Homo sapiens: one gene and its partners. The protein of the gene in region 2 interacts with the protein of the main gene of each other region in a biochemical or structural test. Each region holds a gene or a part of one and is shown on either strand. Other genes may lie near its edges.

Region 1 (11,711 bases), on a different chromosome or scaffold from region 2:
CGCTTGAGGACTAGATGGAAAGTCTCTCGAACAATCTGCTGTTGAATTTCTTCTGGCTATGAAACAAAAAGATAAGTGAATCAGTGGGCAAGCCTGAAAAACTACATCCCATCCATGGGGATGGACAAGGGAAGAAGTGTTTCTAAGCTGGGAACATCTAAACATTTAGTACTTGTTTCTAGAAATGATAAAAATGATGAGAAAAAATAGGAGTGAATCTATGAAAGATGGGTGACAATGCTCTGATACAGGAATTAAGATAGGGTATATTTACCTAAATATCTAAGTCACTAACCATTACTGTCCTATAGGTAAGCTGATATTTAAACAAGAAAAGGAACATTGATAAACTCTCATACAAAGTCAGAGAATAACTGGAAGGCCTGATCCTGAAATATTTTGTCTTCCCCTGGAAAACATCTATGACAAAGATATAATAAATCTCAACAGGTCTAACATTTTAAGAAGGTCAAGATGTGGGCCAGGCACAGTGGCTCACGCCTGAAATTCCAGCACTTTAGGAGGCAGATCACAAGGTCAGGAGTTCGAGACCAGCCTGACCAATATGGTGAAACCCCATCTCTACTAAAAATACAAAAAAAAACAAAACAAAATAAAACAAAAAAACAATTAGCTGGGCGTGGTGGCGCATGCCTGTAATCCCAGCTACTCGGGAGGCTGAGGCAGGAGAACTGCTTGAACCCAGGAAGCGGAGGTTACAGTGAGCCGAGATCACGCCACTGCACTCCAGCATGGGCGACAGAGTGAGACTCCATCTCAAAAAAAAAAAAAAAAAAAAAAAAAGGTCAAGAAGTAATCATGTAAATGTTTTAAAAAGTTATATTGGCAAATACAGCTGCCATCTTTTGTACTGGTAATATAGATACTACATATAAGATGCTGTGTTACTCACCAACAAAGTATTATTGAGAAAAATAGATTACAGATTAAAATTTTGAACAGTTACAAATAAAATGTATTATTATTATTTTTAGACAGAGTCTTGTTCTGTTGCCCAGGCAGTGGTGTGATCACAGCTCATTGCAACCTCCACCTCCGGGTTCAAGCGATTCTCCTGCCTCAGCCTCCCCAGTGGCTGAGATTACAGGTATGTGCCACCATGCCCGGCTAATTTTTGTATTTATAGTAGAGATGGGGTTTCACCATGTTGGTCAGGCTGGTCTTGAACTCCTGACCTCAAGTGATCCACCTGCTTTGGCCTCCCAAAGTGCTGGGATTACAGGTGTGAGCCACCATGTCTGGCCTTATTTTTTCACTTACTACGTGCATAAGAAAGCTCAACTCTGATGAAATCACTTTGATAACTCACCTTTGATTTCTAATTATACATATGAGTTTCAGAAGAAGTATGGTTAAAAGGGTAAGAGAGGGAGAAACCAGCAATTAAGACAGATAATAACTTAAAGCTCTAGAGCATTGCTTCTCAAATCTTCATTTGCAATGAATCAGCTGTGAATGCTGTTAAAATACAGATTCGGATTTAGCAGGTATAGGTTAAGTCCTGAGATGCAAGTCTAGTAAGCACCCAGGCAATAACATTTCTGCTGGTCTGGGGACCACACTTTGAGTAACGAATCATAAGAAAACCTTCAAATTGGACTTGCCCCAAGAGTTAGAAAATAGGTTCAAGTAATTTTAATCCCTTTCTTTCTATAGCCCTGAATTTAGCTTTGAAATGGTTATTTAAAAGAAACAGAGAGGGGAAAAAAGGGAAAACGTAATTGTGGGGAAATTACTTTGACTCACATGGGTATGGAATGGCTCACAGTATTTACTGACTGAATGAAAACTTGCTAATCATTGGTCACTACAAATTTGAGTAAATTAATCACTATTTTCCTCATTTCCATTTAAAGAACAAACAAAGCTCACAGATGACAGGATGCTGTAGGAGACGAACTCTATATATGCAAAATACAAAACATGCTAAGCATCAGCACTTTTTAAAACTGACAAAGACATCTTTTGAACTAAAGCCTTTTATCTGACTCTGGGGGAAGTGGCAGCAGTGGGGAAGTGGTACGAAATGATGAGGCTACCTAATTTCTAGTTCAATAAAAAGGTAAACTACCAATTGCTTACATGCCTCAGTGATTTTAATAACCCCTCATATCTTTTTAGTACTCTGTAGTTTTCAAGGTACTTTCATCCATGAGCTCATGAGGTCTTATAAAAATCCTATGATCCAAAGATACACGAATGGGCAATAAGCACATGAAAAGATGCTCAACATCATTAGTCATTTTGGAAACTGAAATCAAAACCACAATGAGCTGGGTGCGGTGGCTCACGCCTGTAATCCCTGCACTTTGGGAGGCCAAGACGGGCAGATTACTTGTGGTCAGGAGTTCGAGACCAGCCTGGCCAACACAGCGAAACCCCATCTCTACTAAAAATACAAAAATTAGCCAGGCATGGTCGTGGGCACCTGTAATCCTAGCTACTCAGGAGACTGAGGCAGGAGAATCACTTGAACCCGGGAGGCAGAGGTTACAGTGAACCGAGATCACGCCACTGCAGCCTGGGAGATAGAGTGAGATTCAGTCTCGGAGGGAAAAAAAAAAGCCACAGTGAGATACCACTTTACACCCACTAAAATGTCTTTAACCAAAAATAAATAAATAAATAACGAATGGCAGGGATGTGAAGAAACTGGAATCATTATACATTGCTGATGGAAATGTAAAATGGTGCAGCCACTTGGAAAATTTGTCAAATAGTTTGCAGTTTCTCAAAATGTTCACCACAGTTACCATATGATCCAGCAATTCTACTCCTAGGTATATAACCAAGAGAAATGAAGTCATAAGTCCACATAAAAACTTGCACAAGAATGTTCATAGCAGCATTAATTAGAAGAGCCAAAAAGCAGAAATATCAACTTATAAATTGACAATCAAAATATGGCATATCCATATAATGGAATATTATTCAGCAATAAAAGAAATGAAGAACATCAGATACATGCTACAACATGGATGAATCTTGAAAACATTATACTACATGAAACATGGCAGACACACAAAAAACCACTTATTTATGATTCCATTTATAGGCAACGGAATAGGCAAATTCCATTTGCCATTCTGGAACTGGCAAATTTAGAGGGAAAGAAACTCTCTGGGGCTGGGAGAGTCATGGAGAAATAGGGAGTGACTGCTAATGGGCAGAGGTTTCTTTTTGGGGTGATGAAAATGATCTAAAATTGATTGTGGTGATGGTTACACAGCTTCTGTGAACATGCTAAAAAACACTGAATTGTCCCCTTTAAATAAGTAAACTGGGGCCGGACACAGTGGCTCATGCCTGTAATCCCAGCACTTTGGGAGGCTGAGTCCGGTGGATTGCTTGAGCCCAGGAGTTCAAGACCAGCCTGGGCAACATAGAAAGACCCCGTCTCTATAAGTAAATAACATAAAATAAATAAGTAAACAGTATGGCATGTTAGTTTTATCTCAGTAACCCTGTTAGAAAAAAACTAGGGGGGAAATTTGCATACACACAAATGCAAATACAAATAGTTACGCTGAATACTCATATACATACATATATATATATACTTTTTTGTGTGTGTGTGTGATGGAGTCTCGCTCTTTCGCCCAGGCTGGAGTGCAGTGGCGCTATCTTGGCTCACTGCAAGCTCCGCCTCCCGGGCTCACGCCATTCTCCTGCCTCAGCCTCCTGAGTAGCTGGGACTTGGAGGTGCCCGCCACCGCGCTTGGCTAATTTTTTGTATTTTTAGTAGAGACGGGGTTTCACCGTGTTAGCCAGGATGGTCTCCATCTCCTGACCTCGTGATCCGCCCGCCTCGGCCTCCCAAAGTGCTGGGATTACAGGCGTGAGCCACCGCGCCCGGCCTGAATACTCATATTTTTACCTCGATGTAATCTACTTAATAAAATGTAATCTAGCTTTAAAAATCTTATGAAGGAGTAAAATTATTTTTTCATTTCTAATTGACAAAAGACAATAAAAGTCTGAAAAGGGTTTATTAACTTGTCAACAGACGCAAGAGTAGAAAAGGTGGAGCTGAAGCCTGAACACGTTTTCTGGCTCTTTCCCCTCTTCAGTTCCACCAGTCCCCCAATTATGTAACATTTTGAAACCCTGCCATGAAGAAATATAATCTTCGAAGACAGGAAGCAAATACTGATGTTTATGTGTTTGCAAAGGAACGTGTTGGGAAAATTCAAATTTACGTAATCACTTATTGAGCCCTTATGCGGCAGCATTTATAATTTCTCATCATTTTTCCACTTTTAAACTGATTTTCTTCAACCCTAAGAGTGAAGGGTATCTAGTCTCTGGAAAGTCCCAGCCAACACTGAAGCAAAATAATTCCAAAAAAAAAAGAACTTTTCCAGTTCTGGCTATAACAAAAACTTTCAGAAACTTAATATTTCTTCCTCATGAAACTGTGGTCAACAACCAAAAAGATGACAGAATGTGACTTCAATCACTCAAGTTCTCATCGAGGCACACTCCCCACTGTCGCTTCTATCTCGTTCCCAGAGACCCACGGGAAAATGTCACAAAATGGCACAGAAATGCCAGGATCAAGAAAAGGGTCAGCGAGAGCGGGGCAGTAGGGCGGGAGACAGAAGGCCTGGCACCAGCCTGCGCCTAGATTAAATGCTTAAGTAGGGCGAGGGTCATGCTCGGTGCAGGAGCCCCAGGTGACCAAAGAGCGGTGCCCCCGGGCGCCGAGAGGCCAAAGAGGAGGGAAGACATAGTGGGCGCCCTGAAGGGGCGTGGTGAAGCCGGGCCGCACTCACGAAACGCTGGTAGAAGCGGACTAGCCGTGGCTTCCCATGGTTGTTGAAAACCAGAATCGCCTGAATCATCTTTGCCAGCCACGGTTCTCTCAGCACCGGCTACTCCCAGAAAGCTCCTCCTTCCGCCACAACACGATCACTTCCGGTTGGTGCGCTGCTGAGAGCGGCACTCGGAAACTTGGCCCCGGCGCTCACGAGCCCTAGCACCCAAGGGTCCGGCCTCTCTGACGCCTTGGAGGGCAGGTGCGGATGCCGAGGAGAGTGGTCACCTCGGCCAGCGTTGGTTGGCCAGTCAGGATGCGAATCCGGATCTATGTCCCTCGCCCAGACCGACGGCTGGCCCCAGAAGCCGAAACGACCGTCAGCCGGGTTGCCAAAACGGAGAGGCGGCGGGAGCTTGCTTTTCTCACCGCCCGCTCCAAATCATGCACTCCCGCCATCCCCTTAGCGCTCGCAGAACGTTCCGCGGAGTGGAGACGCCGGTCATTCGGCCGTTCGTCGGTTATGGAACATTTCGTTCATTTTAATTTTTCAGTATTATAATGCTGCAGTGAATTACGTAGCTGTCTCTCCGTGCAGATGGGCTGTTCCTCTATGGTAGACGGTGAATGGTGGAATTAAGGAATTTTTAGTGCATTTCCATTTAAAATCCCAAATCGATCAAGTTCTTATTTTTGTTTGTTCTTTTAATGACCCAGTGTGGGTGAAGTGGAGCATGTCCGTATACTGCAGATGGAGCAGCGGATACAGATGCAAATCGATCCAGAGGACTGTTTGGCGATATGGATCAGAAGCCTTTAAAATATATAACAGTCCGGGCGCGGTGGCTCACGCCTGTAATCCCAGCACTTTGGGAGGCCGAGGCGGGCGGCTCACTTGAGGTCAGCAGTTCGAGACCAGCCTGGCCAACAAGGTGAAACCCCGCCTCTACTAAAATTACAAAAATTAGCCGGTTGTGGTGGCGCGCGCCTGTAGTCCCAGATACTTGGGAGACTGAGGCAGGAGAATGGCTTGAACCCGGGAGGCGGAGGTTGCAGTGAGCTGAGATCACACCACACTGCACTCCAGCCTGGGTGACAGATATATAACATATATATATATATATATAAAACATTAGACTCAGCGTTTCCAGCTCTAGAATTTATGATAAAATGATTGTGGATGTGTGAAAAGATTTAGCCTGAGGAACATACATTTCTGCCAGAGTATCTTCAGAACAGTAAAAAAAAGAAGAAAAAAATATATATCTCAGCAGTGTTATTACAGGGGAAAATGGGAAGAAAATTATTACAAAAATGAGAAATTGGTTAAGTGCATTGTTCTACATTGAATATGAGAAATATTAAATAGATAATAAAAATCATGCTGGGAAAGATTTATGATACGGAAGTGTTCATGACACCTGTTAAGCTAAAAGATTACACAAAGTATGTACAGGGACAACCCACTTTGCTCAAGATTGGAGGCAAATACACCAAAATATGAATCATGTATCTGATGGAATGGCAGAGTCAGGGTGTTTGATCTGTACAGGACCCTGGAACCACACTGCCCTGATTCAAAGCATGGTTCTGCGGACTGCCTGGGCACCCTGGGCAAGTTTCCCCATCTGTAGAAAAGGTGTAATATCAGTTTCCTAAACTGGAAAACTGGAAAATGAGTCTACTGACTTCAGACAGTTGTTATAAACACAAAGGGAGTTAGTATAATATTTGTAAGCACTTGGACAGTGCATGGCACATAACTGAGTACCACATAAGTGATTTAAAAACATCTTTGGGTGGTAGGATTATCAAGTTTTCCTTTTTTTCCTTCAAAGAAATATGTACTACTTTTGCAGCCAGAGTTCTGGGGTTTGCTTGTTTGTTTTTCAGAGATAGGGTCTTACCCAGGTTGGAGTGCAGTGGCACAGTCATACCTCACTGTAACCTCAAACTGCTGGCCTCAGGCAATCCTCCAGCCTCAGTCTCCCAAACCGCCACCACGCCTAGTCCAGTTTTTTGTTTGTTTGTTTGTTTGTTTGTTTGAGATGGAGTCTCACTCTGTTGCCCAGGCTGGAGTGCAGTGGCACAATCTTGGCTCACTGCAACCTCCGTCTCCCGGGTTCAAACAATTCTCCTGCTTCAGCCTCCCCAGTAGCTGGGATTACAGGCACATGCCACCATGCCCAGCAAATTTTTGTATTTTTAGTAGAGATGGGGTTTCACCACATTGGCCAGTCTGGTCTCAAACTCCTGACCTCAAGTGATTCACCCATCTCAGTCTCCCGAAGTGCTGGGATTACAGGCGTGAGCCACTGCGCCCGGCATGGCCCAGTTTTTAAATAAATAAAAACCAAAAGTCAGTTGCACTGAAACTTGACAAAATGTTTAAAATGTTGAGGAAGAATATCAAAGAAAATTCTGAAACAGAATTATGAAGAAGAACTAGCTCTGCCAACTATGAAAACCTACTTTGATGGTTCAAATTGTAATTATAGGAAGAATAACTGAAATATTATAAATAATTTAGGCATAAAATAATTTTAATATGTGATGTAGGAGTGGGAAGGAATTCAGTAAATACTATTAGGATAACTGGTTAGCAATTTGAAAATAAGTAGTTAGGTATAAAACCAGATAATAACCTAAACAGAAGAAAGCGAAATTGAATAAGATCCAAAAATCTGTATTAGCTTAGAAGCAATAAAAATCACAAAACATCAACAGATATATAAAGTTTTTTTATAAAAAGAATTATTTAATGGAAAAATCGTTGTTAAAATATGGCAAATGGTTATATTTAAAATGCAAATAACTGATAAACTAAAAAGATAACACTCCCCATCTCCCCAGTAGATAAATGGACGAAAGAACGAATAACAAAGGGAGAAATACAGCTAGGAAAAGGAAAAAATGTTTAAGCTCACTATAAGTGGGGGAAAGGCAAATTAAAATATATTCAAATATTATTTTCACCTCATCAAAAATCATTTTAAAAATGTTTTCATACCCAATTCTCACAAGGGCAGCATAAAAATGGTTCTCCCCTACATTGCTGGTGAAATTATGGTTTAGAACAACCCTTTTGGGAAGCAATTTGGCAATATAACAAGAACTTTGCAAAAGATTTCTAGATTCTCAGTAATATGACTCCTGGGCATCTGTTCCTAAAGAAATAACCCAAAAATATAGTTAGAGGTGGGGAATTAAGAGAACTATATAATTTTCAACATTTTTGGAAACATTAATTCTGTTAGCCACACAGGGATCAATTTTAAATATCCAAAAGTTGGACCATGACAGAACTATCCAATGGTAGCAATCTTAAAAATAATGGTTACAGGTGGGCGTGGTGGCTCACGCCTGTAATCCCAGCAATTTGGGAGGCTGAGGAGTGAGGATCACTTGAGATCAGAAGTTCAAGAAAAGCCTGGCTGACATGGTGAAACCCCGTCTCTACTAAAAATACAAAAACTAGCCGGGCGTGGTGGCGTGTGCCTGTAATCCCAGCTACTCGGGAGGCTAAGGCAGCAGAATAGCTTGAACCCGGGAGGCAGAGGTTGCAGTGGGCCAAGATCGCGCCATTGCACTCCAGCCTGGGCAACAAGAGCAAAACTCCATCTCAAAAAAAAGAAGAAGAAAAATGGTTACAAAGACTATGCAGCAATATGGAAAGTGATTATGTGTGGGCATAGTGTTACAACAACTACCTACAAGCATTACAGATGTTTCAGAATTTGTCTAGCAGGTTTTCCAGTTTGTACCAGAAAACCCCTATGCAAGTTTACAAAAACCAAAACTATGTACACAAATTACATGCTAAAAAACCCAAATACTAAAAATTATGAACATGACTGAGTGAAACTATGAGTCTTTTTTTCCCCTTTAAATATATTTCCTAAATGCATTGCTATTTGTGGAGATTAGTTTAGTCCCTCAAAAAATTTTCCCATAATGTCCGGCACTGTGGCTCATGCCTGTAATCCCAGCACTTTGGGAGGCTGAGGAGGGTGGATCACCTGAGGTCAGGAGTTCGAGACCAGCCTAGCCAACATGGTGAAATCGCATCTCTACTAAAAGTACAAAATTAGCTAGTCGTGGTGGCGCAGGCCTGTAATCCCAGCTACTTGGGATTACAGTAATCCTCCTGCTGAGGCAGGAGAAACTCTTGAACCTGGGAGGTGGAGGTTGCAGTGAGCCGAGATTGAGCCATTGCACTCCAGCCTGGGCAACAAGAGCGAAATTCCATCTCAAAAAAAAAAAAAAGAAAGAAAGAAAATTTCCCATATGAATGAAGCTCAGAGGATTTGCTTGGTTCTGTTTGAAGATACAAAATAACTGTAATTTCCATCATTAGGCCCATGGTGAAAGGCAAGCTGGACACTGGTGGAAGAAAAAAAAATTCAGATGGGTAGAGGAAAGGGACCTCCCTCCAAGAAAAGAGTCCAGGCAAGGCAATGCAAGTGGGGGAGTGACCTGCTCTGGGAACAGCCAGCCCCTCCATGGGACCAACACAGCCCTTCCCAAACTGTTTCTCACAACAGCTGTCCCATGAAATGCTCCTCACAAAAACGGGTTCTCTGACCAAAGAAATGTGGGAAATACGTAATCATACCCTGTCCTGAAGAGTTACAGTAAATGTTAGTATAGTTAAAGCTCCAAGAAATCCTACAGAAATGTTTGAGTTTAACACTACGTTTGTTCCAACAAATTAGATCATAGAAACACCACCACTTTTTGTTTCTAGCCCTATTAACAACCTGTGGAAGATCCCTCAGGCTGGTCTGAAAGAATCGCCCCAGAGCTCTTAAGGAGGAAGCGAGCCGAGAAAGGAGGGTTGTGACATTGTGATGAGCTCTGAGTTGTATTAAGGAATTTGAACTTTTCATCTGGGGAGTAATAGGATCCAGTCTAGCTTCCAAAAGCTGCCCCTACCAGCCACATGGGGGCCCCTGAAAGCAGGGTTTCAGCCCTGCTGTAGTTCCTCAACTCCCCACAGGTGTATCTAGGAAGGCTTCTGCCCTGGCTGGGCCTGCCCTAATGCCTGAACCAGTCCTGACCAGGGCAGGAGGTATGGCAAAATCAGGGGCTTTGGCCTCACCATCTGCCCATGCAGATGCCTATGCCACAGCAGCTTCCTATTTTCTCCCTTCCTAGTCCCTAGTCCTAGGGAATAGGATTTTACCTCAGTGTCCCTACCTGCTGAGCCTGGGACCCTATTCTTTTTTTTTTTTTTTTTTTTGAGACAGGGTCTCACTGTGTTGCCCAGGCTGGAGTGCAGTGGCAATCTCAGCTCACTGCAACCTCCACCTCCCGGGTTCAAGAAATTCTCATGCCTCAGCCTCCCAAGGCGCTGGAACTACAGGCATGTGCCACCATGTCCGGGTAATTTTTGTATTTTTTGGTAGAGACGGGGTTTCACTGTGTTGATCAGGCTGGTTTCGAACTCCTGACCTCAAGTGATCCGCCCACCTCGGCCTCCCAAAGTGCTAAGATTACAGGCGTGAGCGACTGCACCCAGCCCTGGGGCCCTGTTCTTATCCTCAGCCCACTTGGTTTTCCCATCCCTAGGGAGCTAGTTTCAGTTCTCTATACTTCTTAGCCACAGGCTGGGCTCCTGCTAAACAGCAGGTCACCCGGAAACATAACATCACTACTTGTGCACCACAGCACTGCCACTCACCCAGAATCTGGGCATCATTCTTGATCCCTTCGTCTCCCCCCAGGTCCTGTTGATTTTGCCCCCCGAATGCCCCTCAAATCATTCTCTTCTTTCCATCTCCCCTGCCACTGCTATAGACCAGACCCCTCTAGCCTCTCACCCAGGCAACTGCAGCAGTCTCCTAAAGGAGCAACTCGCCTCCAGCTGCTCGGCAGTCAAGTGACCTTTGAAACACAGATCAGATCTTCTCACTCTCCATGGGATCACTGGCTTCCAGGATGTTAAGGATAAAGTCCCCAATTCCTTAACATGCGTGAGGATGCCATGCCCAATCTCCAGCCTCATCTCAAACACCAGCCCCCATTCTCTGAGCTCCAGACACAATGGTCTTTCCCTTCCTGAAGCCCATCCAAGACACCCCGCCCTTTTTGTTGCTTTAGGACCTCTCCTATTGACACACTGGGCCTCCTTGTTTGGAATGGTGACCTGTCCATATAAGTGTGCCATACCCTTTGGACACAGTGCTTTAGACAGCAGGATGTCTAAAGACACTGGGTGACTCTACCCCCAGTCAGTGTCCCCAGCTATCCTTCTGCTCAACCACCTCCCTGGCCACCCCCATGGCTGAGGTCCCAGCATGGCCTGCCTGTGAGAAAGTCCCATTCAGACACAGAACACCAGTGAAGTGGCTACCACATCCTCTGGCCCCTGTTTCCAAGACCTTTCTGAAGGGCAAGGAAGCAGGGGACAGTGGAAGGAACATAAGGTTTGCTTTTGACAGCTCTGGGTTTGAATCCTGATTCTGCTACTCATTAGCTGTGTGACTCTGGGCAGGTTGCTTAACCTGTCTGAGACCCTTTTCCTGCTCTGTAATATGAATAGTCCGGTAGTTAAGAATGTGGGCTTTGAAATCTGAGTGCTTGGATGTAAATTCCTCTTGCCACTGTATACTATCCTAGAGCTCTGAGCTTTAGTCTCATGAGAAAATGGGAATAATAATCAGTACCTCATGGACTGTTGTGAGAAGTACGATATCGCAAGTGCTTAGCACAAGTATGAGTAATTATTATCATGGAAATCATCTAGCATTGTGTTCGACACATTAGGGGGACTCCATAATTATTAGTTCACCACCACCCTCTCTTTTCCCAAGTCAAGCAAGATCCACATGCCACCAAGTCCTGACGACATGGAGACTTCAATTCCAGGTCTCTTCACAGATCTGGGTGTGGGTATACTACCCAAAAGGCAGTGTTCATGAGCCAAGAGAAA
Region 2 (11,007 bases):
CATTTCATCATTGGCTTGGACTGTGACAATACTGTATGTAGGCTCCTAACTGGTCTCCCTCTCTCCAGCCTTTTTCCTTTCAAATGCTTCATCCATCTCAGGCTTCAGAGAAGCCTGTCAAAAGTGCCTAAGGGAACAGATACTCCACCCCTGCTCAAAGGATAAAGTCCACAGTCCTTGACCTGTTGTGATCTGATGCAACTGCGTCACCTGTCGCTGTCTTTTCCTGGTAGGCACTTTATGCACCAGTAACACGCAACCATCTACTGTTACCTAGCACCCACCACACAAGTTCTCAGCCAGTGCCTTGGCCTGAGTCACTCACCGCCCTTCACCCAGAAGTCTCTGCAGGGCCCTTATCACCTGGTTCACTTCTACTTGGGCTTCAGGGCTCAATTCAGAAGTGCCATCTCTCAGAAGGCCCCTCTGAACTATGTGTTTTCTCTCTGCTTTCATGAAACTTCACAAGTTTTATAAGGAAAATGTGTTCATTAGTCTTTAGTGTCAGATTGGGTCTGATACTAAGAACTGTATCTTTTTCATGGATCCCCAGCACATAACATGGTTTCTGGCACAGAAGGGACACAATAAATAATTAATGAAGAAACAGATGATACCGCAGCGTAGAGCACAACGCTGTGCCAGGCATTCATCTTCTGCTGTTTACCCAGTTCTTCTTGGTAAAATCTTCAATGTGGCAAAATGCCGCATATTCTAAATAATATGTAAGAAAGGTGATCTGAATAAATAAAAAGTCTGAATTTCAGTACTGCAGAATCAAGAAGAGACAGTAACTTTCTTAGCTGCAAATATTATTTTTCAAGGAGACATTTTGGCCTCCTTTCATAAATGGTTAAGACTAGTTTGGAATTAGCAGGGTCTATTTTTATGCATAATTAATATGCCAAAGGCACACAAACATTAGTTCTAAGTCTGTTAGATCTGTCTTTAGCAATTTTGGTTTTAATGAATTTTTTATAACATCCTTTTTCATAGCAAGTATAGCATAGGATTTTCACAACCTTAAAACTGATGAAACTCTTTCATTCTTTCCACAAATATTAACTTAGCAATTCCTTTGTGCTAAGCCACTGTTCTAGGTATTGGAGATATAATGGTAGACAAGATCTCCTACCTTCTCATTTTATTGGTGAATTCTAAAAACTCCTTGATATAACAAGGAACAAACTAGACTTGTAAGCAATAAAACATCACATTTATCTAAGGGAAAAATACCTAGATATTATGATAAATTATCAATCTACAGAAATTTCTATATTCATATTAGAAGAGATGTTTAAAGTAGCAGATAACATTACTACAAATGTGCAGAAAAAGTCATGTGTTGCCTCCAATTTCTATTCACAAATGATGCTACTGATTGTTGTTACTTTATTTTTTATTTATTCAGTTACTTATTTATTTTTTGAGAGGGAGTCTCATTCTGTTGCCCAGGCTGGAGTGCAGTGGCATGACTCGGCTCACCACAACCTCCGCCTCCCGGGTTCAAGCGATTCTCCTGCCTCAGCCTCTCGAGTAGCTGGGATTACAGGCACACATGACCACACCTGGCTAATTTTGTATTTTTAGTAGAGAAAGGGCTTCACCATGTTAGTCAGGCTGATCTTGAACTCCTGATCTCAGGTGATCTGCCCACCTCAGCCTCCCAAAGTGTTGAGATTACAGGTGTGAGCCACCGTGCCCAGCCTGTTGTTACTTTAAATCAGGTAAATGCTACTCCATCCATTCCCTACCCATTCCATTATATTTGTCACAGAAAATTTGGACAATGAAGAAAGTAAAAGGAACAAAATTTAAATCCCCTGTAATCCACACTATCGCTGTTAACATATGGGTTTATTTCCCTCTGGTCTAGTCATATATATGTGTATTTTAAACAAAATTGAGATCATATGTATTGTATCATTTTTTGACTCATCTTTTATAAACGATTATCCTTGTTATTAAATAGGTTTTGAAACTGTTATTTTAATGTCTGTATACTAATCCACTGTATTAGTATATTTAAAAAAATATACTAAATCAGTTTATTTAATCATTCTTTTACTATAGGACATTTGTGTTGCTTTCATGCTGAAGTAAATGTTCTTGAATATATTTGTCCAAATTAGTGAATAATTTTGTTTTCTTTTTTTGAGACAGAGTCTTGCTTTTGTCACTCAGGCTGGAATGCAGTGGTGCAATCTTGGCTCACTGCAACTTTTGACTGTCATGCCTCAGCCACTGGAGTAGCTGGGATTACAGGTGCACACCACTACACCCAGCTACTTTTTGTATTTTTAGTAGAGATGGGGTTTAACCATGTGGGCCAGGCTGGTCTCTAACTCCTGGCCTCAAGTGATCCACCTACCTCGGCCTCCCAAAGTGCTGGGACTACAGGCATGAGGCACCACACCTGGCCCAAATCAGTGAATAATTTCTTAGAATAGACTCCTAGATTGGGATTATTGGGTCTAGAGACAAAAAGTTTTCATGAACTCATCAGCCTTTAAATATCAACAAGTTGCTCCAGAAAGCAGTGTATGAGCAACCATTTCAGCATATCCATCCCAATATTGGTGTTTAAGGTTTTCAGAAATCTTTGCTTCCTCAGTAGTGGCAAAATAGCATCTTCTTGTTTGAACTTGCATTTCTTGAATTACTGGAGAAGCATAACAGTTTTTACCATGTATGAAGTGAGACTGTTTTAAAACAAAAGTAAAAGAATCTTCAACCAGCATAAGCTTCCATTTGGGTACACAGAAGGCTGGTCAGAGACAGAACTGAGAACAACCTCTCTGAGCTGTGTGTAGTGAACATGGAGTCGCTGGCCAGGCTGACACCTGACCTGCAGATGAAGGAACAGATGCAGGCTGGATTAGCTTGACTGCTGAACACTGACATGACTTAATACAGCCACAACCCAAGTCAGCCTAACAGCAATCTTTTGGGAAGGCAACACCATGAGAGTGGTGAAACCAGCTGTCCTGATGTAAGCCACTTCCAAGTGATAAAAATAAGCACTCAGGGAATCCATTAGGCTTTCACGGGAATCAGTAATACCTTTAAGGAAAGTTTCGGGATTCGAGAGCACTACTGGTTGTTCTTTAAGGTCAGTAAAGTGCTACTTCATAATTAAACACAACTTAAGCATCCATGTTGCCATCTGCACAGTCTAAATTCATCCAGAGATAATGCAGACCAACTTGGAGAACTTGCCCTAATTGTGTATGGATGGTATATTGGCCTAATTGTATACTGGACTCCAGATTAATAAAACTCATCAAATGGCAAAACACCAATTGATTTGCTTTGTTTTTTAAAATTGCTCCCTGAAACGAAGCAAACCCAACCCAGACTCATGCAGTAATTTAAGTAATTTCCACTGTTTACATAAAAGAAAGAAACTGCCATTAACATTCTACTCTTATTCCCTGACCTTATTTTAACTCAGTAAAAATGTATTGGCATTCATTTATTTATGTCACTGTTGCTTAACTCATTTTCATTTTGCAACTGTCATAATTTTAACTAATGAGCTCTGATAGTTCAGATTCAAATGTAGCTCATGGGTGAACTGTACTTTGTTTATAAATTACATACAGGACAATATGGTGGAATGACAATCCCAAAAAACCTCCTGCTACAAAATACCCACTAACTTATTTTTGAAAGTTTCTAGGTGATTACAAATGTACAGCCAAGTTTGAGAACTGATGACCTAAAGGGAAAAAAAGCAGCTACCGATAGAAACTTAAACATAGAACCAGGTGAAAATTGGGAGCGGGAGGGGAATATATATATACATATATGGGGAGTGGGGAGGCGGGTGAGAAAGAGGAGTTTCAGATGTGAATAAATAAGAAATAAGGCCACGGAAACAAGGCCCACATTCTGTGTGTAACTTGCACAGCCAGTCTCATTATTTTGCAACCTGTTTGGTTGTGATTATATCTCTCAAAATTGAAATAAGTAATATTTTCATTACCTACCTATTTCTATGTCTCCTCTTCCACTACTGTTGATTATCAGAAGTACAGTGTTAAAAGAAAATATCCTTAAAATGGGAATTGTGGGCGCTGGGAGGACTGGTGAGATGTTAGTCAAAGGACACAAAATTTCAGTTTGATATAAACAAATTCAAGAGATCTAATGTACATCATGGTGATCACAGTGGATAACAATATATTGGGCCAGGCACAGTGGCTCACGCCTGTAATCCCAGCACTTTAGGAGGCAAAGGTGGGAGGATTGCTTAAGCTCAGGAATTTGAGACCAGCCTGGGCAACACAGCAAGACCCCATCTCTACAAAAAAATATTTAAAAATTAGCCTGGCATGGTGCACACCTGTAGTTCCAGCAACTTTAGAGTTTAAGGCAGGAGGATGGCTTGAACCCAGGAGGTCAAGGCTGCAGTGAGCCATGGTAGTGGCACTGTACTCCAGCCTGGGTGACAGAGAGAAGCCCTATCTCAAAACAAAAACAAAAACAAAAACAAAAATAAAATAAAATAAAACCCCAAAATATTGTATATTTGAAAAATGCTGAGATTAGATTTTGTGTTCTTACCACAAAACAAAGATAAGTAATTGAGGTAAGGTGTATGTTAAACAGCTTGATTTAGCCATTTCACTATGTATATCTATATGTATATCTCTCTCAAAACATCATGTTGCATGCCCTAAATATGTACAATTTTGACTTGTCAATTAAAAAATGAATTTTAAAAAATGGGACTTGTGATGAGTGATTACATTAGTGTAACAATGGCACTCTGCCTCACACTGTCTCTGGAAAGTGTGTAAAATTCAGATGCTGAAGGGGCCAGATGGCTAGGGCAAATGAGTGACACAGGCCATGGGTTTGTACATTTGTTTGCATGTCAAACCCCAGCAGCAATATTCATTTCTACAGAGAAACATGCCCTCCCCCATTTCTGTTAAACACATGATCCTCTCAAGCTATCTTTCATTTTCCTTCTTTTGGTAAGGAGTGTCAGATATAGAGAAACATTTCTCTACTCTAAGAAACACAACAGCACATGCACAACAACGGATACCTTCACTGGGCCTTGGGAGCCAATAAGGGCGCAAAGGACGGTGGGTGCTGTGGTCTGAATGTTTATGTCCCCTCAAAACTCCTTTGTTGATATCCTTACCCCCAAGGTGGTGAGATTAGGAGGTGGGGCCTTTGGAGGTGATTAGGTCACGAGCGTAGAACCCTCTCGAATGGGATTAGTTCTCATAAAAGGTACCCCAGAGAGCTCATTTGCCATGTGAGGTTAGAGTGAGAAGACCATAATCTATGAGGCAGTGGACCCTCACCATACCCCAAATCTGCCGGGGCCTTGATCTTGGACTTCCTAGCCTCCAGAACTGTAAGAAATAAATTTCTGTTGTTTATAAGCCACCCAGTCTATGCTATTTTGTGACAGCAGCCTGAATGGACTAAGACAGTGGGAAACAGGGAAGGCAGGTCTCTTCTAAGGGTCAGCCTCTTTTCTGCCGAGACAGCTACCACACAGAACTTGGTATGACGAGTACCAAAGAACATCCACATGTTTCAAGAGAAGCTGGAAATCTGGACCAATACGTGAAGTTTCCAGATTTTAAAGGTATAAATCATTCATGAGACAAACATGTGACCACTGGCCTACAGAGTGAGGCAAAATGTGAGACTAAACAACAAAATGCAAACAAAATCATTTCCAAAGAAATTATTTTCTCTATTCATCCAAGTAACACTTACTGACCATCTATTTTGAATAAGACATTGCATTTGGCAGTAAGAAAAGACACAAAACTAAATACGACAGGACATCTACCTTCAAAGAGAGCTTTCATACTAGATTAAAATACCAAATTACGTCATATGGGTTGAAAATCCCCGCAGGGCTGAGGCCAGAAGGGAATTACTGAGTAATTCAATTATGGAGATATGAATGCTCTTGTCTACTTTGATCAGCACTCGGGGAAAGACAAGAGATTGTGGAACTGGAATTACTGATGGCCCAAACTCCTATTTTTAACACTGGACTCACAGGAAAGCCAAAAGGACACAGTAAATCAAAGACACACCAAGCAAAATCCTGGTTGTTTGAAAACATTAACAAGATAGCTTCCAAACTGGCCTTACAGGAATATAAAACAGGGATATTATGTATTTTTAAAAATATTCTAAAAAAATAATTAAATGAAAACTAGATCAACAGTTCTCAAAGTGTGATCTCAGGACCCCTGGGGAGCCCGAAGACCTTCTTAGGAGGCGCCCACAAGGTCAAAACTATTTTAATACTAAGGTATCATTTGCGTTTTTAATTCTATTATTTCTCTGAGTGTAGAGTGGAGTCTTCCAGAGGTTACGTGATATATAATGATGTCATATTGGAATATGTGCTTGTGTAGTCTTCTGTTTTAAACATTTCTCAAAAATACATATCAGTTTCAATTTCTAATATTGTAACTATCAATAGGTATGGAAACATAAGTTCTTTGGGGTCCTCAATAATTTTTAAGAATATGAGGGGCCCAGGAGTTTAAATTGGATTATAAAATCTGCAAGGGTAGAGACTGCCTCTTGTTTAGTGTTATATCCATAGCTCTTAGCACACTGCCTTGCAAATGGTACACACTCAGTAAATATTTGTCAAATGAAAGAATGACTGCCAAAGCATGTACCCAAAAGTGCATTTAGATATAGAAAGCAAACACCTAAAGTGGTCTTTATTTTTCCTTGGTTGTTTTTTCCAGTTACCAGCTTGGATTAAAAATGGTCCCTTCCTTAGTGTATAGTGTATAGATAGTGCATATCTTGATGATATGGCCAGGAATGTCTAGTAACTTGGCCAACATCCTATGTTTTCATCAATGAGCTTATAATTCCACCTCCTGATTCTTCCTGGGAAATAAGCAAATGTCTGGCAGAACAGATGGCCCCTCTGCTGTGGCCTGACAGAATGAAATCTTGGATTTATTTAACAATAAAGCAAAGTAGTTTCCACAGGCAGGAATCTTCCCCTCCTCACCAAATAATATTTCCTTTAATGTAAACTTGCAGATTAATAGTAATTATAAGTAGTAATCTCCTCAGTCAGAATTACCATCTTAAGGAATGAAGACATGGTCTAAAATAATCACTATACAAATATAAACACCTTTTTTAAAAATGCATATTCCCAAAATTGCAGATTACGATCCCACAGCAACCTGCCTCCAGTAATGGATTTTATGATAAGCACTTTAACCTGAGTTCTGTTCCTAATGAGTCTGATTCAGCAAGTCTGGGATGGGGTCTGGTATTTTCTAAATCTTTGTAAGTGATTTAGATGCATCTCCTAGAGTCTAGGGGCTATGCTGACAACTGTTAGCCTACTATATTGTCTTAATCATTAATAAGGAATGCACTCATAGTCAACATGAATTAGTAAGACACTAAAATAAACTTAATATGATTTTGATATCACAAGATCGTGTTTCTAAAAGCCAGGAAAGAATTTGGATAATTTTGCTTAGGAGTTAGAGAATCTTGCAAGGAAATTAACGACACTGCCTCCGTTTACAGTGCTATAGTTTCTTCCTGTGCTGAGCCAATCACATTGCTCCGTTATAAACTTGGAAAAGAGAAACTAGGAGATGAAGCATGTCTATGAGAGGTCAACAGCTGGAAAGTCACACTGAGGCGGGGCTGAGCAAGCCCGGATGAGTACAGAGCCAGGCTGAGTAAACAGAGGAAGCCTGTTGGTGGAGAAAGCAGAGGAAAAAGTGGGAGGCAGAGTGTGCCTGCTTCCTGCTGACTTTCCACTTTCGGTTGTCCTCTCAGGAGGCCTTACTGTGCCGTGGTTCTTGCCCTTTGATTTCTATGAGCTTCCCCTTCCAGATTTACAGAAACAAAAAAAAGAATCCTCTCTTGCCAGAGCTAGTTTGAGTAGGCCTCAACTCCTTAAGAGAGCCAAGAAGCGGGATACATTGTGGTCTGTAAGGACAATGTAGCATGAGAGGTGAGGGATGGCCATAGAATTTATTGTCCAAAGCAGAAATCTTTTGGAGGAAAGGGGGTGTTAGTGATTACACCAGCACAACAGGTACACAGAAACCATGTAGGACTATTCCAGGCAAATGGGATGTATGGTCATCCTTGAGATGGGAAAAGTGGGTTCAGGATCAGAAGGCTAGCTGGCACGCTCTCTCCTTCCCTCTCCATTTGACTTTAGATAAGTCACTTCTATTCCAAGAGCCTCAATTTCCTTGACCGTAAGATAACAGATTTAAGATATCTTTACAGGTTTTTTTCTGATCAAGAAAAATCTCAGACTAAGATAAGTCTTCTTTGAATAGAGGCAACTCAGGAGATGAGGTAGATATGCAAGAAGGAGCCTTTTAAAATGATATATAGCTGAATGCCTTTACATACACATCAATAAAGATGTTTTGCTGATTTGACTTTAAAAAACAAGATCCCATAGTCACCAATCAAAGCAATCTGGTTATCAGTGATTACATTTTACTTCTTTTTTTATTTTTATTTTTATTTTTTTTGAGACAGAGTCTTGCTCTGTCGCCCAGGCTGGAGTTCAAGGGAGCCATCTTGGCTCACTGCAACCTCCGCCTCCCGGATTCAAGCGATTCTCCTGCCTCAGCCTCCCGAGTAGCTGGGACTACAGGCACCTGCCACCATGCCTAGCTAATTTCTGTATTTTTAGTAGAGACAGGGTTTCACCATATTGGCCAGGCTGGTCTCGAACTCCCGACCTTGTGATCCACCCGATTCAGCCTCCCAAAGTGTTAGGATAACAGGCGTGAGCCACCACGCCTGGCCTATATTTTACTTCTTGAGGAATCGGTAGAACAGCTCCAGAGTTTCTATGGCTCCCAAAAGAAACCAGCTGGTACTGACTTGCCCAGAGCCTCAGGTCCAGATGAAGGGGAAGTGTATTTGTCCTGTTCATTGCATCTCTGAGACCTAATGCTACAGTCCTGCCTTGACCTGTGAAGAGGAAGTCAAAGGTGTAAACAGTCTCCCACTGGTTCCCTTGCCATCCCATCCCTTGTTGGCCAGCCCTGACTGTGGCCAGTTCTGCATCCCTATTACTGGGAGACAGTCAACCTGCCAGCACGTCTGCAGAGATTAGGAGCGCAAACTTAATATTCTGAACTGCATAGCTGCTCTTAAAGGTCATGGGATCTCAGAAGTTTGGAGCTAAGAGGAACCATAGCTTGTATAATAAGTTTCAATTCACAGATGACAAATATAGCTAAAGACATAACAACTGTTAACGTTCAGGCATTGTGCGAGGCATTGTGCTGGGTGCTTTATAGATATCATATTATTTCATTCTTGTGACAACTCTGAGTTAAGTATTCTTATCCTTATTGTTCCTATTTTCAAAATGAGGATCCTTAGGATTTGAGGGATTAAATAACTTGCCACTGTGCTTGTTCAGCTTAGTCCAAGAAATCCTTAGGGACAGAAAAAAAATGTTTGATTCAGTTCTGCTGATTCTCAGGACACTCTTCTTTCTATTAAAATGATCACAGGCGAGTGAAGAGGCATTTAATATGTATCTCAGGCACTGTGCTAGGTGTCAAGGCAGTTCACTGGGATACCAGATGAAATGTAACGTAAACTCCTGCCTTTCCAGGCCTAAGGGAGGAAAAGGAACTGCTGGGTCTCTGCAAAGCTCTCTCTTCATGAAGGCCCAAACGCTTGTAAGGAAATGCCTTATTAATGCTCACAATATCCCCTAGGAAGAGGGTGTGGGAAAAAGAGAAGTACTATTATGCCTCTCTTGCAAATGAGAAAATTGAAGCAGAAACAATTACAGGCCTTGCCCAATACGAGGCAGTCACCACTGAGGCCAAAAATGAAACAAAATTGTCTTGGTTCCTTCCACGATATTCACTGGCCAAAATTAAAAGTCTCTCTTCAGTTACCTCTGGTCACTGCAGGGTTCAAGGACAATTATCATTTGAGACAACTTTTTGGATAGGAATTCTCTTACTAAGCTTCCCACACCTACTCATTTGAATTTCATCCCTTTTCCCTCTTCCCTTTTTGACATAGACAAGTCGGGGCATAGACAATCTTCAAATGAAAAAACAAAGAACTGGAAATATCAGAGTAGATTATATTATAACTACATTAGAATCAAGTTATGAATGAATTCTCCCATAGTAATACTAGTGGCAATAAAGATGACTGCCACATATTGATTACCTATTCTGTGCCTGATACTATGCTAAGTGCTTTATACTTGGTCCTACAATAATACACATGCAGAGACAAATCCAGGTTTTGTGGGTCCTGAAGCTTATACAATTTGAAGGGTCCTTCTTAAGAAAAAAGAAAATTTGGGATATAGAATGAGGTACAGGGCTTCGCAAGGGTCTGTGCAAGTGAGAGACCCAAAGCTTAACTTTGCGAGTTTCATGGTAAATGCATCACTGTGCCCAAGTTAGCTAACAGCTCATATCCCCAGTTTTACAAGCAATGAAATTGAGGACCAAGTAAGTTATTTGACGTAAGTCATAAAGCTTATACTGGCAAGGATAGGATTTGAACATATGGAATCTGACTCCAAATCTCACGTATTTTCTTTGTGTGGCTTCTAATAAAAATAAAGTTGCTATCACCTATTAAGCACTAACTATATCCCAGAAAGATCACACCTTAAGGTTATAAGAATTATTTGACAAAGCAGATGTGATCGTTAGTCCTTATTATCCCTATTTACAGATGGGGAAAACATGAATCAAGTAAGATTAAACAGCCCACGGTCACCGAGCTGGGACATAGTGGAAGCTAGGTTTCATGCCCAGGAGTGTAACATCCTCAATCTTTCCCACTGTCCCATGCTACCTACCACCCTACAGGTAATCCAGGAAAAAGCAGAATAGCGATGTGTGACTTACCTCTAATGACAACAGTATTTCCACACCTGCCCACTGAAACTAGCCCTGTCCTTTAGTTTCATACAATACACCGTGCAGTCCTCCTTAGCTGGGATTGAGC
Region 3 (11,007 bases), on a different chromosome or scaffold from region 2:
AAGTCTGCAAGTATACCAAAATGAGGCCAAACAGATAAAGACTTATACAGACATACTCTTGGAAATTTCAAGCACTTGAATCACAAAGATAGTAATGGATGGATATGATTTGTTTTTGATTTTGTTTTTAAATTGCCAGACCCAAAAATAAACAAAATATGTGCAAGCAAAACTGAAAAAGCAGCATTACTAAAATGTATTTCGAAGACCCTGAAAGCTCCCTTTTCCTCATGCAATAAACAATCAACTTTCTTGAAGGGAAAAGGAAAGTAATAGAGTAATCTTGTTATTTATTTCATCTAAGACATAAAATACCATCCTACCATCTTAAAATATCTTTTTTTTTTTCAAGTTTGAATACAGCATAATAAGATGGTAGTTGGAACAAACTGTACGTATTAAAACCTTTACCCACCCTTCCTGCTGGAAGTTGCTATATGCACATTCATAATTTTGACCTAACAGCAAAGTGAAAGAACACCAACATTAATAAACACAATATTAAATGGTTTCAGACTCAAAATCATTAACAAAATAATGGCAGATTTTGAAAGCATGTTTTTGAGCAAAAAAGAAAATGTCAATAGTTTAAAAAATCCCTCAACACGAGGTAGAATAACTTTTAATCTGGGGATATATAATAGGCTTTGTTTTAATGGCAGTGCTTTAATACTGCAATTATAAACATTTAGATAAGCTCATGACAATTCTCTAGACAGCAATAACTATGGTGTTTCACAGTTTTAACAAAATTAGAGTGCTCAAAAATTTAAAAAACCTTCCAAATTATTAGTCATTTTGTACGGATTATCTTCAATTATAGCTTTAATTTCAAACATAGGATTTGCCTGCATGAAAAAAAGAGAGCAGACTAATGACTTTCATGGATTTATCATTACTAGTTTTGACCATTACAAGTGACCTCAAGGGTTCTCACCATAATTTTGTAGAAGTACAAGACAAATGTGTATGTCAAGGTAGAGAGGCAGAACCAGCTCATGAGCTGACCTTCCACCATCAGTACCTTAGAGCCACTTTTCTTATTCTCTCCTCTTTGAAAACAGAAACTTGATTTTTTTTAAAAAAGGCCAATTAACAGTTCTAGCAATAAAGTTAACAGACCCAAGTGATTAATGGTTCTTTGCTGGAAAATAGCAGTAATAAATTACATACTGTAACACAGAAACTGGCAATAATTCTGACCAATGGTGAGAATGAGACTACTATGTATTCTCTATATGAGGGACAAAATAACATGGATAGAGGGACCAAAAACGGTACCCCAGTTTTGTGACATAGCCCACAATCTCAAAATAAGATACTATAAAGCCACCTGTATGTTGCTACTTCTTCTCAAACACATCGAGAGAGTAAGTAAAAATTTAGTGGCTAAAAGGCAATGCTTTGTGATATCACCACAATCATCAATTCTCAGTGATGTTTTTCTAATTAGTAAGTGCATAATCTAACTTCGTAAGTTTATACATTTTTTCCTCCATAGGACTCAATAAATTACTTTTATTTTGAAATTTTCAATCAGAGACCTTATAAACATTTCTTTTGCTTACATGGTTTCACACAAAATAGTTGCTCATCACCACGTACATGGAACTTTTAAAAAAGTAATTCACACAGTTAATTTATGGTGTGAAAAAACGTACAGGAAATATCAGAAGAAAAATTAGTTTTGTAAAACTAGAGGTCTATTAAAAATATTTCCAATATTTGCCAATACGCTTTGCAAAAATATTCAGGGTTTTTAATTCAATACTAAAACATTAATATATTTTTATTGATTCTGATTATGACATGTTTGGATGTCAGAAGGTTTGCTACAATGAAAACCCATTGTATTTTGGTGATTTGGTAATTTGGTAATTCCATTTTTCGAGCATTCTAGTTTGAAATACAGTCAAGTTTTATAAGATTTCTGATCTTATTTTCTGTTGGCCACTGTTAATATGCACCTGCAGGTCAAAACTGTAAAAGCAATTCTGTTAAGACTTTGGAACTGAAAACCATTTGAGGGGAAAAAGTACTATTTAACAGTCACTATTCTAAGCCTTCACTGCTTCCCATTTTGTATGCAAAACTCTGAAGGTTCAGCTTTTGGTTTTTAAATTCACAGCTTCCAAAACCCAGCAGGCAATTTTATGTTAGAATCCTAATTTAGAGATGGAAAAAAAACAAATCTGTGAGAGTTAAATTAAGATTGGTTCTGCTATATGATGCTCAAAATAAATTTTACGTTTTTATATACAAAGTAAATTGTCACTTCTGCAAATGCAATTTGTCAGTTAGATGACAAGTGTTTAAAAAAAATTTAAACTTTCCTTTTACAATGCAGGCAGACAAAACAGAACAAACATGACATCAATGATATACTAGTAAAATACACTAAGTCCAATAAAAGATGAAGAAACTACAAGGAGAAACTAGAATGGAAAATAGGCTACAGGGACTATATGGGTTTATTAACACAAAGAATTTTTGAGTCTGGCCTAAATAATTAATTGCCTTTGACATCATTTTGCTTTCCCTTTGTTATAGTACATATTTCTCAAAGTCAGCAATACCTTGTCTACCTGTCCTGTCTGGGAGACTGAAAGATAAAGGTCTGTAAGAGAGAAGAATGGAAAGAGCTAGAAAGATCAGGATGTTCGGAAAAAAAAGAGGACTGACTTTCAAAAAGTAGTGACTAAATTCAGACCCATTTATCCATCTTAAGAATAACATGAAATACATAAAAGCTAACAGATCTCCCCAACCCCACCCCTCTACCTCCACCCCCAGGGAGTCCTTTTATTCTTAGGCAGGTTCCTGAGTGCCTCTTATACTTCCCCCGAATCCCATCAACCTCCCAGCTTAAACCCTCCTCTCCCAATATTCCAATGTTATAGTAAACCATTTTTCTATCAAAATAGAATAGATGGAAATACATTCAGAGTATATCTTTGCTTCTCTCTTTCAGGATCTGGCAGAGCTTTGCTTCCACCTGTCTAGGTATTGGGAATTAAACTGGTTCACTTTTTTCCATTACCAGAAATGTACTAACTTTAGACCAACATAATAAAAGCTCTGATTTCTGACAAAGGCCCCTAGATAAATGCATGTTATGTTTAAAAAGCTGTGTCTCAATTATACCCAGACTGATTTTTAAATATAAATGATGTTCCTAAGATATTACTTAAATAATTTTTAAAAATATTGATAACCAGTTCTTTTCATCAATCATGACATTCTCGATTTTAAACAAGTCTTTTTTTGTGTGTTTGTTTTTGAGACGGAGTCTTACTCTGTCACGCAGGCTGGAGTGCAGTGGTGCAATATCAGCTCACTGCAACCTCCGCCTCCCGGAATCGGGCGATTCTTGCGCGTCAGGCTCCAGAGCAACTAGGATTACAGGCAAGTGCCACCATGCCTGGATAATTTTTTTGTATTTTTAGTAGAGACGGGATTTCACCATATTTGCCAGGCTGGTCTCAAACTCCTGACCTCAGGTGAGCAGATCACCTGAGTGATCCCAAAGTGCTGGGATTACAGGCGTGAGCCACTGCGCCCAGCCAAACAAGTCATTAAGTTTGTCCTTATATAATACATTTTAACTGAAATTTAGTAAGAAGATTAGGAAAAGTTTATACTTTGTTTCAAGTAATTTTGGATTATTCTGCAGAGTAATATCTCTGGTAAATTTAACCAATTGAAGTAACATGGACATGAAACATATGAAAGCTTTTGACATTCTAGCTGGAATAAAGCTAGAAGCCTTTCAAACATACTTAAAATATACAAAAGCTACGAAAAATTAGTCATCATAATTTTCAGTGCTGTTTTAAAAAGATGATCAGGGCTAAATGGCCTCACTTTGACTTGAAATCCGATTTCATAACTAAAATATTAGCAGACGTTACATGTATAGAAAATATATAATTTTGTAGTTTATCCCCAATCAGACTTAAAACATACTTTCTTGTAAAAGACAAAAGAAGAGAAACTAATTTGGTACCAGATAACAATTATGTATGATGCGAGATGATCAGGGAATGAATAATAGAAGTAATCACCAGTATTCTAAACTATTTTAAATAGCATTATTTCTGTGAATAGATTTTAAGTTATAGTATTCTTATAACTATTTCCATTGAAATGTAAATTACGCATTTTACTGCTCTTTATAGATAAGAAAAATTGCCTCATTAACGAAGTTTTATTCAACAATCAAAAAGCAAATACCCATTATGCAATAATTATAGGTCCTTCATAACTTTTGTCAATATAGCACATTAACCCATTTATGCCGGAGGTTGCAAACTTTTTTTTGTGAAAAATCAGACCTTGGGGATGACCTTGAGCAGTAGGATATAAATAACTCCCACAAGCTTAGCATTCCAATAATGGAACACCAGGCATAAATGTCTTAAGTAGCAGAAGAAAAAGAAGGACCACCACCAATGAAAAGGAGTTAACTACCTAGAAAGGTGAAAATTCCAGACAACTGGTCAATATTTTTTACAGATGATTATGCAGAATTCACAAATTACTAGATACTCATTCATTTATACCAGTTATTAAAGGATTGCATCACTGTTTGTCCCTTGGCATTTAAAATCTATAACCATACAGTTTTGCAAAGCAATGTTTAACAAATGACACACATTTTAAGTTCTTTTAAGACTTTAAAAGCAATAGCTCAGGGTTTATAATAATCTTTTCTTTACTAAATAATATATTGCAAGTCAGTTATACTAAATTAAATTATGAGTCTTTTTCCTTGTCCTAAAACAAAATTTTCTCTATTAACCTAATTTATGTTTTCCACTTTCAAAAGCCAATATTTTAAAAATTGGCTATAGGACAAACAAAACATATAGTTAGTTAAGATAATCTTAGCTCTAAATCACCACTATAAACTTCTCCTTTGGGAAACCAACAGGAATGGGAAATTGAGATAAAGAAAAATGCAAGACTATTTTAAATTTAAAAGAGAACACTGGAAAATGTTTTATAAGCTTCAACTGTTTCTAGATTTGAGATTTATTCTTCACCCTGTGTTTTCTTCAATTAAAATGGACACAGAATTGAATTGAGTTAAACTGATCCTTTAAAATGCCAACAAGGTAAAATTTTTCAGAACTCACCTGTTGTAAATTAATGCCAGTGTATTTTTAAAACCTTGATGCTTTCAAAGTAATATTTACTTTAAATCAACGAAACATCTGAGCTTAACACTAATAATTATAAAAATAAAGTCTGTTTTTTCCAATCTGAGTTATGACTGCAAATACCAAATGTAAGAGTATCCTCAAACAAGTTGGGTGGTGAATGAGATATCAAAATTATTGATCTTTCTTTTTTTTTTTGAGATGAAGTTTTACTCTGTTGCCCAGGAGTGCAGTGATGTGATCTCGGCTCACTGCAACCTCCACCTCCGGGGTTCAAGTGATTCTTGTGCCTCAGCCTCCCGAGTAGCTGGGATTACAGGTGCGCTCTACGTGCCCAGCTAATTTATTTATTTTTTATTTTTATTTTTTTAGTAGAGATGGGGTTTCACCATGTTGGCCAGGCTAGTCTCGAACTCCTGAACTCAAATGATAAAACTACTGATCTTTCTAAACCTCTGCTAGGGTAATAAACAACCAAAATAATGTGAACCCAGGTGGCTCAGCTACAGCACCTGCTACTGATATTCAGACTAGTGCTTGAGGGAAGAGTCACTACAATTCTGAAGTAGGGTTTTATACAATGCTAAAGTGCTGGCTGTTCCTCATTTATCCCATCTAAGGTTGAATCTAACAGCAGAAAGTTAGCTAAGTATAACAAACCGATCTTATAGAATGCAATAAAGACCATGGATATATATGTACTAATGTCTAAAATATGTGACTTAACTAACTTGTCAGTGAAATCTTAGGGAAAGATTTAGAATTAAAAGATTAAGGTATTGAATTTCTTTTTTGAATGTGAACTCAAACATTCAAAATATTTATTTTGCATTTATTAATAACTTGAAACATTACTTACTTCCCTGTAAGAATTCCATTTCCTGTCCTTTCCCTTTCCAGAAGTAGTTTTGTAACACAAAATTTATATATCTTTAAAATATTAGTTCTAAGATTTCCTTGATAATTACCGACTGAAGTTTTACAAAGCAAATATTAGATTCCATTATTCAGATAATTCTTTTAGGCAATAAGATTTGGAATTGTGCTTATTACCCAAGGCAGCTATGACTGTGGCTAAAAGAAGAATACACAAAGCTGTTGGGTAGAGAACAGTCACAGAACCTTTAGCATACTACGTGTATATTCCATTTTTTAAAAACTGAATAAGCATAACGGCTGAACCTAAAGGGTGATACTGAAGGACAAACAGTGAAAACTACAAATCATGCGTAATCTGTCATCATGCTTAGAACCTTCTTAACTACAGCATTTTCCATTCTTACCTCAGATTTTTCCAGCTTATTTTGTGCATCAATTTGTGTAACAATCTCATTCATATTTGTCTCCAATACCATTCCCCCCATCACCATTTCTGCAAGAATATTGTGAACCTAAAGGGAATAAAAGAATATATACCCATAAAGAAAATTCACTAAAAAGAAGTTTCATGATTCACTTTTTGTTTCAAATACCACTTTGTCTATGTTAAAAGTATGAGTGGTAAAAACAACTTGGAGTAAGGGCTCATAATCCACTTTCATCACTACTGTGAAGCCCTAGGCAGTTATATAACCTCCTTAAGTCTGAGCTTAATGGGCTATAAAACAAAAACAATAGTACTACCTTCATAGGACTGTTGAAAGGAATAAGCAAGGTAATCCAATGCAGTACTCAAAACAAAGTAAATGACTAGTAAATATTAACTACCATTATTATTATTATTATGTGAAGTTTAATACTAAAATATGATTTATAAGAGCCTTTTATGCCAGATTCTTAGCCAACAATAATTAGGTTATTATTTTACACTCATGGTACTTAATGAAGCAATGTAGTACAGTACTTCTAACAGGCTCTAGATTGGAAAAAGGTAGAATTTTTTAAATTGTGGGTACTTTAATAGTGTTTTTACCCCCAAATCCTCTACACATGTAATATTCAGATTTCTTCTAATAAATACATCTTACAATGACTAAAAATGATGTCTTCCATTGGGGAGTAAAAATATAACTTCTGTCTTTTCATAAGGTATTATTGGATCAAAAAATCAACAATTCAGAACTGAATTACATTTCACAGAAGAATCTATTCTGCTATAATTTTTTTAAAATAATGTGGTAAGGTTAGAAATGGAGACTCCAAAATTAGATAAGTATGAATACAGACTCTACCACTTATTACTTGTAGCCCTTGAGCAGTTACTTCAGCTCTCTGAGTCTGTTACCTTATTTACGAAATAGAGACAGAAATAATATAGGCACCTCATAGGATTACCATAACAATTAAATAAATAATTTATGTAAGTGCTTAGCATAGAACCACTAGGTATTATACGGTAATTTTTTTTTCAACAAACTCTTTTTAGGAGTTAAATATGTATTACTCAATTTAAATTTCTTTGTAAGATTTCACGCAAATTTATTCATAATTTAAAAAATATCCCTGGAGGCTGGGTATGGTGGCTCACACCTGTAATCCCAACACTTTGGGAGGACAAGGTGGACAGATCACTGGCAATATGGCAAAACCCTGCCTTTACAAAAAATGCAGACAATTAGCCAGGCATAGTGCCTCACGTCTGTACTTCCAGCTACTCGGGAGGCTGACCCAGGAGGACTGCCTGAGCCCGGGAAGTGGAGGGTGCAGTGAGCTGAAATCACACTACTGCACTCTAGCATGGGCAACAGAGTGAGACCCTGCCTCAATTAAAAAAAAAAAAAAAGTCATCATTATTTACTATTTTTCATTTTGGAAGCATGGACACCTCATGCACAAATTCTGAAGACAAATTTATATAAATTAATCTTCCTAGCCAACCAAACCAAACCAGACATGACAGTGTTTTGAAAACTACCGTAACTTAAAAAAAAAAAAAAAAAAAAAGAATATAGGCAAATGACTAAAAGTTCATACAGAAACTTATGTATGAACAACAATAGTCTCTACCACACTCTGCATCCGTTTTTAGGTCCCTTTATCCAAAGCTACTCAGCTAGCTATATCTTAGGTATCCTAGAAAACTTGCTGTGCACATACTTGTTATACGTGTGTATATGCATATCTAATTTACACAAATGAGAACATATTATATACATTAATTTTCGCAGTTCTGCAAGAAAATAAAGAATTGAAAGTTAGAGGAAGGAAAGAATGAGAAATTAAGTTAGGAAAACCATAAAAGAGACTGGTGCCTGATATACATATGACAGTGATAAATGAAACTGTGTTGGTAAGAGCAAACAAACAAAAATATAAAAATTTAAAACAGTGAATCAACATTAATTATTAGACACATATTTTTATAATGAGATCTCTCACTGATCTCTGTCAGAGAAGCAAGCTGCAAATATGGAAAACGAGAAAGCCAGAAGAAATTCTGTAGTATTGTACTAGATTCTGAGGTATTAAGAAGTGGTCAATGATTTTTAATATCATATCAAGATCCAGAAACAGCTGTGCGTGTATACATACATCTATTTCCCAGCTCAGTTCACTAAGAACCAGGAGTCATGTCACCCCAGTAACAATGAGCAAACACAGTGCCCAAATCGTCATTTCTAAACATCATTCTCTACTGAAGGAAGCCAGGGTTCCTTGGAGAAATGGCTGACTTGAGGGCTGGAGCAGAAAATACGTAAGATGCTCTGTTCATTGAAAAGGCCATAAAACAATGAGCAACTTCATAATCATGAGCACCTCTAGACTGTAGTTACTATATACCATCGCCAACAAAAAGGAATCAGGGCTCCTAGAAAAGAATGGTTGACAACATGTCTGGAACAGGAAATGAATAAAATGAGTTTAGAACATCTAGCTGGACCACAACACAAGACAGCTACCAAAGCCTATGACGGGGTAGGTCAGGTCAAATGAACTAGCAAAGATAATCTGAAGGGGTTCCCACTGGCCAAAGATGGGCAACTTGAACATAATAGAAAATAATGTCTGCAACTGATTAAAACAAATCAAATATATTAAAAATTTTATGCCATAGGATACTAAAAAACTTAAATGATCTTTTTTGGTGGATATTAGAAAAGCAACCAGTTATGAAAATTGGTAACTATAAAGAAAAATACTCTAGAATTTATCTGGCCTTTCCTATATAAACTGTGCCTTTTATTTAAGCCCATCTTTGTCTTCAGTAAATTATTTCATTCTGTGCACTTTTAGTGTATTGAATATTATTTCTACCTTTAATTATACTTTCTCTTTTCTCCCAATATTTTAAGTTTGATCTAATTTTATTACACTATTCTCTTCCTTTTAAATATGAAACTCTACTGTGCTTATACTTCCCATTAATATATATCTCTCCCTCTTAAATGACTTTATTATTATTTATAAAACAAATATCAAGTTTTCTAGACCACTGAGAGACCTTGTTTTCCTACTAAAATACTTTAATTATTCCTCATTCTTCTTTCTCTCAATTGGATAAGATCCTCCAAGTACTTGTATAATAGATGTTAAATGTATCCTTCAAAGTCTCTTTTCTTCTTCTTCATGTTTTCTATCTTTCAGTCTTATGCTTTGGGATTATTTCCTACACTTGATCTTCTACCTTTAATTCAAGCCTCAATTGTGATCACCTTCTTTAAAAGTTTTCAGTCTGAAAAACTCTTTTCAAGCCCAAGAAGACTTTTCCAAATCTTAAGTACTTTTAAAATCATTTTAAAATTTCAAGTGAGGCCAGGTGGTGGCTCACACCTGTAATCTCAATGCTTTGGGAGGCCAAGGCAGGAGGATCACTTGAGGTCAGGAGTTCAAGACCAGCCTGGGCAACACAGCAAGACCCCAGCCATACCAAAATAAATAAATTTTAAAATTATAAAATTTCAAGTGTTACTCTATCTTCTCCAGTAGTTCTTTTCCATGGAGCGTAATTTCTGATTGTTCAATCTGTTAATCTCTCTTGTTCAGATGGCAGTGCTTTCTTTCTATTGGCTTACTGTGCTCAGGGCTGGCTTCCAAGATGTTATTAATGGCTAGTAGCTCCTTTATTTGGTGAAAGTAAAAGGAGTCTCTCGTTCTGTGCCTGTGGTTAAAGACCAGGCTGTCCAAATCCTCAAGAGGGACCAGGTTGGAAGAAAGCACTCTGCTCTTAAGTCTTTATTCTCTCAGCCTCAAGGGTATGAAAGACACAGGCCTCCGATCAGATCTCTACCCTAATCACTTGTGGAGGCAAGTGGGGGAATGCAGAGAGGAGAATAGAGTATATTAACAGCTGTCATTCTCAAAGTCATACATCCTCCAAACCAAGCCCTGCACAGAATCTTTAGCTCTCTCATTTTGCCCTGGATTTTGATGCTTTCTTCCAATATGGGCAACAACACGGGGCCACCCAATTGGAGCCACACTATACAGGAAATGGGCAGATAACTCAGCAGCTCCCCCAGCAAATCCACAATAAACATATAGTGTAAGTAAGAAACAAACTGAATGATTCATATTTTAGGATTTTAGGGGTAATAACCACAGCATACCTTAGCTGTATGTGATAAAGGGTCTGACTCCATTTTTGATGTGTGTCTGCTCACAGCCTTCAAGTTCTACTAGTCCCCATTCCTCTTCTGCCCCATATCTGGGCAAGCTGTTAAGAAGGTCTGGATGCTCCTTCCTTTACACTAGTGGAAAGTTCAGACTACCTAAGACCTGGCCCACATGCAGAAATCCTCACACCCCATCCCCACCACCAAACCACCATAAAACCCAAGCCCCGTGTTGTTCTCTGTTTTCTCCAGAAAGCCTCATTATGTGAGTAATAAATCTTTTCCTATCCTCTTGGGGCACCTGTGACATTGTTAGTCTCTACATCCAAACCAATTGTGAGTAGGGGTGGGTC

Evidence for each region.
Region 1: the proteins of SCARB2 (region 2) and AP3S2 form a complex in vitro, tested with the Homo sapiens proteins (one study listed by BioGRID).
Region 3: the proteins of SCARB2 (region 2) and AP3S1 form a complex in vitro, tested with the Homo sapiens proteins (one study listed by BioGRID).

Annotation. Positions count from the first base shown.
Region 1 is NC_000015.10:89,889,085-89,900,795, forward strand, and holds the start of AP3S2 (AP-3 complex subunit sigma-2), read right to left. Parts: upstream 4,911-11,711; 5' UTR 4,866-4,910; coding exon 4,797-4,865; intron 57-4,796; coding exon 1-56. Other genes in the region: ARPIN-AP3S2 (uncharacterized protein LOC100526783), read right to left, coding at 1-56. UniProt on the Homo sapiens protein: Part of the AP-3 complex, an adaptor-related complex which is not clathrin-associated. The complex is associated with the Golgi region as well as more peripheral structures.
Region 2 is NC_000004.12:76,200,853-76,211,859, forward strand, and holds part of SCARB2 (lysosome membrane protein 2), read right to left. Parts: intron 1-11,007.
Region 3 is NC_000005.10:115,898,431-115,909,437, reverse strand, and holds part of AP3S1 (AP-3 complex subunit sigma-1), read right to left. Parts: intron 10,790-11,007; exon of another isoform or gene 10,649-10,789; intron 6,554-10,648; coding exon 6,446-6,553; intron 2,618-6,445; coding exon of another isoform or gene 2,582-2,617; exon of another isoform or gene 2,577-2,581; intron 1-2,576. UniProt on the Homo sapiens protein: Part of the AP-3 complex, an adaptor-related complex which is not clathrin-associated. The complex is associated with the Golgi region as well as more peripheral structures.